2 separate regions of the Homo sapiens genome follow, and region 2 is linked to region 1. Evidence: fine-mapped expression QTL. Tissue or cell type: whole blood. Region 1 holds a variant in brackets; the other region holds the start of a gene. All regions are shown on one strand. Distances are between the middles of the regions.

What was found. PIP is the estimated chance that this variant, and not a neighbour inherited with it, causes the effect.
Region 2: PNMA8B starts here. The variant in region 1 is fine-mapped to the expression of PNMA8B in whole blood (TOPMed, PIP 0.97).

Annotation. Positions count from the first base shown.
Region 1 is chr19:46,522,634-46,525,316 of GRCh38, reverse strand. It overlaps the pseudogene PPP5D1P. Among named protein-coding and RNA genes, the nearest start is that of PNMA8B, 28 kb to the right of the region's middle. The variant G/A (reference allele first, on the strand shown) is at 1,165.
Region 2 is chr19:46,494,354-46,497,036 of GRCh38, reverse strand. It overlaps PNMA8B (PNMA family member 8B), which reads left to right and starts at 1,170. Exons shown (of 1, transcript NM_020709.3): 1 at 1,170-2,683. The coding sequence starts at 1,572.

The sequences.
Region 1 (2,683 bases):
GGGCCAGGCACAGTGGCTGACACCTGTAATCCCAGCACTTTGGGAGGCCGAGGCGGGTGGATCACTTGAGGTAAGGAGTTCAATGCCAGCCTGGCCAACATGGTGAAACTTCGTCTCTACTAAAAATACTAAAATTAGCTGGGTGTGGTGGTGCACACCTGTAGTCCTAGGTACTTGGGAGGCTGAGGCAGGAGAATTGCTTGAACCCAGGAAGGGGAGGTTGCAGTGGTCCAAGATCATGCCACTGCACTCCTGCACTCCAGCCTGGGCAAGAGAGCAAGACTCCATATCAAAAAACAAAAACAGAAACAGAAAAAGAAAAAGAAGGAAGGAAGGAAGGGGCTATTATAAATGCTCTAAAACTTTAGAAAAAAACTTCAATGACACTGTTAATTTCCTCCAAGGCTTACAAACCGAGGTTTCTAGCCTTGCTTCAATAATTTCACAAAATGTATGAGTCTGAGCTACTCTAACTGCCCAAAAAGGAGGTATAATGAATGAAGCTGTCATTTCTGTGTTAATATATCAAGAATTTTTGCCCACACTTCAGAGGATTTTAAAGAACAGATGTAAATCTTATCAGATAGGTGATACTTTTTCCATTTATTTATTTAGTTGGTTACATCTTGGCTCCTGGGAATCTCTCCTCTGGTGAATTTTCCAACCCTTGGCTATATTATTCTCCTCCTAGTCATGATATTAACCTCCCTGGGAGTTGCATCCTCTTAAGGGTTTCCAATGCCTCTCAACAGCCACTGATGCAACTAATGACACCCATCTGCATTAGACAACTTGGAGAACCTAAGGACTCTACCACATATGTCTAAGATGACTATGCAGCTATCAAAAATGACTATACACCCATCTGTCCCAGCCAATAGCACTCCCAGAAAGTAATGCTATACGATTTCATTACCCCCTCAGCTTGCTATGTCAAAAGGGGAAAGTTGTTAAAATAAAATGGGGGGAGCCAGGCGCAGTGGCTCACACCTGTAATCTCAACACTTTGGGAGGCCAAATTGGGAGGATCCTTGAGCCCAGGAGTTTGAGACCAGCCTGGGCAACATGGCAAGACTCCATCTCTATAAAAGTAAAAAAAAAAAAATTAGCTGCACAAAGTGGTGCATGCCTGTGGTCCCAGCTACTTGCGAGGCTGAGGCAACA[G/A]GATCACCTGAGCACAGGAGGTTAAGGCTACAGTGAGCTGCGATCGTGCCATTCACTCCAGCCTGGGCAACCGAGCGAGACCCTGTTTCACACACACACACACAAAACTAGGGGGGGTGGATCCGGACTGAGAATTCCCCAAGAAGACAAAATCAGGCCACATAAGCAAAACCTAAGGTACTCTGACTTTTGAATGTAAGCGAAACTCAACTTAGATCTCGATCTCTCTCTCAATCTCTCTCCCTTGTTTTTTTTTTTTTTTTCTGAGATGGAGTCTGGCTCTGTCGCCCAGGCTGGAGTTCAGTGGTGCGATCTCGGCTCACTGCAAGTTCCGCCTTCTGGGTTCACGCCATTCTCCTGCTTCAGCCTCCCGAGTAGCTGGAACTACAGGCGCCCGCCACCTAATTTTTTGTATATTTAATAGAGACGGGGTTTCACCATGTTAGCCAGGATGGTCTCAATCTCCTGACCTCGTGATCCGCCCACCTTGGCCTCCCAAAGTGCTGGGATTACAGGCGTGAGCCACCACGCCCGGCTATCTCTCTCCCTTTCTTTCCTTTCTCCTTTCCTTTCTCTCTTTCTTTCTTTCTTTCTTTCTTTCATGGAATCTTGCTCTGTGACCCAGGCTGGAGTATAGTGGCATGATCTCTGCTCACTGCAGCCTCCATCTCCGGGGTTCAAGCAATTCTTGTGCTTCAGCCTGCCAAGTAGCTGGGATTACAGGCACGCACCACCACGCCCTGCTAATTTTTGTATTTTGTATTTTTTTTTTTTTAGTAGAGACGGGGTTTCACCATGTTGCTCAGGCTGGTCTCAAACTCCTGACCTCAAGTGATCTGTCTGCCTCAGTCTCCCAAAGTGCTGGGATTACAGGGGTGAGCCACCGCACCCAGCCAGCTTAGGTTATTTCTTACAAATGCCTCTGATAATCATAAACGAAACTTAAGTTGCCTTCCCCAAATGATATAAGAGGATTGCTTTTAACCAGTCCCGTGCAATCTGGAAACCTCCACTGTATAGACAGTCACTGTAAAGGTTAAACCACTTCCTGATTTTTGCTTTCTCAGCCATCCTGTAACAACATGCCTCTGAGCTTCTTACTACCTGGGTTGAGGTCTCCTGGATTGTGCCCTGTCCCCACTTTTTTTTAATGACAACAAACTTTTAAATATTTATTCATTGGATCTGATTTTGTTTTGGACACTGGCATGCAAAGGGGAGGGAGATGGTCATAGGACTGTTGTCAACGTTCAAAAGCAAAACAGGATTTATATGAGAAAGGTAAGAGAAGGGAGAGAAAACTTCATACTGAAGTCTGGGTGCCCTGGCTCACACCTGTAATCCCAGCTCCTTGGCAGACTAACACGGGAGGATCACTACAGGCCAGGAGGTCAAGGCTACAGTGAGCCATAATCACGCCATTGCACTCCAGTCTGGGCAACAGAGCAAGACTCTGTCTCAAAAAGAAAAGAAAAATACAACTTTTGACTGAAAACAATGAATTGTGTTTTCACATTTT
Region 2 (2,683 bases), 28 kb after region 1:
CCCAGCACTTTCAGAGGCTGAGGCGGGCAGATCACTTGAGGTTAGGAGTTTGAGACCAGCCTGGGTAACATGGTAAAAACCCATCTCTACAAAAAATACAAAAACTTGCCAGACGTGATGGTGTATGCCTATAATCCCAGCTACTTGGGAGGCCTGTCATCCTTGCTACTCAGGAGGCTGAGGCAGGAGAACCGCTTGAACATGGGAGGCGGAAGTTGCAGTGAACCAAGATTGTGCCATTGCACTCCAGCCTGAGTGACAGAGCAAGACTCCATCTCCAAAACAAACAACAACAAAAAAACAAAACCCTTTGAGGTAGGGATGATGGTTGAGATATAAACCTACCAGCTGGTCTACAGAGCCAGATTCATATAGAGTAGGGGACAGCCTCATGGCCAACAAGGGACAGAGAAGCAAATGCATGTTTACAGTAGCTATGACTGACGTTCACACGCCCCAGTCTGCTGTCCCAGTCAAGGGAAATGCTTTCTTGCAAAATTCATGCCTGGTCTCACAATCATACATATGCTCAAAGCGTGTGCAAAACCACAGGATTTATTGTGCATGCATAGTTCAGAATACAGGAACGTGTATGGGAGTGAGGGCCGGTCCCATCGAGTGGGGCCTGTACCCTGCAAGTGAGGCCCATATACCCTGAATGGTGTCTTGCTCACAGGTGGTGCCTGGGCCCCCCTATTTGATACTGAGACCCATATACTGTGAATGAGGCCAGTATCCCGAGTAAGTCCTGGTCCTACGCTGCAAGGCCAGTGCCCTTTGATTTAGGCCTATATAATCCTGAATTCCACCTGGCCCCTGGAAGGGGGAATTGTAACCCCCAGTGATGCCGGTACCCTCTGGAAGGAGGCCTCTATCCCCTGAATGAGGTCGGGTATCCTTGAGTGATTTCTGGCCCTCTGTGGTTTCGGCCTTGTTTTTTGCTGGTTAATGAAAGTGGTGCTTCCAGGCCCCAAGTCCTTGTCATCGGGACCTTTAAGAAAAGCGTCTCAGGCCACAGCGACGCAGACCCCAGCTCAAGGCTGCACCGTTGCCATGGAGACGGTTGGGCGGGGGACAGGGGAGGGTGTGCGGCTCCCTCTGCGCAGGCGCACGCGCGAGCAGCCGCGTCGCAGCGGAACTGCTGAGATTCAGGCCCAGGGTGCGCGCTCAGACGCGGCGCGAGCGCCAGGCAAGCTGCGGCTGCTACCTCCCACGCCTCTCCAGGTGCACTCGGCGCCGCCCCCCTGCACCTGGCTGCGGTGCCGAGTCACTCAGGCCTGTGTCAGGGAGAGAGGGAGGGAGCTGTCCTGGAAAGCAGACACGTAAGCCCCCCGCGGATCCTCAGACAGCTCTGGAGAGGGGTCCCGGGGGAAGGTCACTGCGTCCAGCCGGCCAGCAGGCAGCTAGAGCCCCCGAGCCCCGAGCCCCACTCCAGCCTTGCCACATTCACCGGAACCGGGACTCTAAGCCCTGCAAGTGGCTTTCTAGGGTTGCATTGACACCGTGCGCTGCAGCCCACCCCTATCTCGGGCTCCCTGCTGCCCCAAGATCAGCGCCAAGGGGGCTGCACCATGGCCATGAGCCTTTTGCAGGACTGGTGCCGGAGCCTGGACGTGGACGCGCACAGGGCCCTGCTGGTCACCGGCATCCCGGAGGGCCTGGAGCAGGCAGACGTCGAAGCCGTCCTGCAGCCGACCCTCCTGCCCCTGGGCACGTTCAGGTTGCGACACATGAAGGCTTTGATGAACGAGAAGGCCCAGGCCGCCCTGGTGGAGTTTGTGGAGGACGTCAATCACGCTGCCATTCCCAGGGAGATCCCAGGCAAGGATGGGGTCTGGAGGGTTCTGTGGAAGGACCGTGCGCAGGACACGAGGGTCCTGAGGCAGATGAGACGCCTGCTGCTGGATGACGGGCCCACGCAGGCCGCGGAGGCTGGGACCCCCGGGGAGGCACCCACCCCTCCCGCTTCGGAGACGCAGGCCCAGGATTCTGGGGAGGTAACAGGGCAGGCTGGCTCGCTTCTTGGGGCAGCCAGGAACCCAAGGAGGGGCCGTCGGGGTCGCAGAAACAGAACCAGACGCAACAGGTTGACCCAGAAGGGCAAGAAGAGAAGCCGAGGAGGACGGCCGTCTGCTCCCGCGAGGAGTGAGGCCGAGGACTCTTCCGACGAGAGCCTGGGCATCGTGATCGAGGAGATCGACCAGGGCGACCTGAGCGGAGAAGAGGACCAGAGCGCGCTGTACGCCACGCTGCAGGCCGCTGCCAGGGAGCTGGTTAGGCAGTGGGCGCCCTGCAACTCCGAGGGGGAAGAAGACGGTCCCCGCGAGTTCTTGGCTCTGGTCACCGTCACCGACAAATCGAAGAAAGAAGAGGCAGAGAAGGAGCCAGCTGGGGCCGAATCCATCCGCTTGAACACCAAAGAAGACAAAAATGGTGTCCCCGACTTAGTGGCCCTGCTGGCTGTGAGAGACACCCCGGACGAGGAGCCGGTGGACAGCGACACTTCGGAGAGCGACTCGCAGGAAAGTGGGGACCAAGAAACAGAGGAGTTGGATAATCCTGAGTTCGTGGCCATTGTGGCCTATACCGACCCGTCGGACCCCTGGGCCCGGGAGGAGATGTTGAAAATCGCTTCTGTTATCGAGTCGCTGGGCTGGAGCGACGAGAAAGACAAGCGAGACCC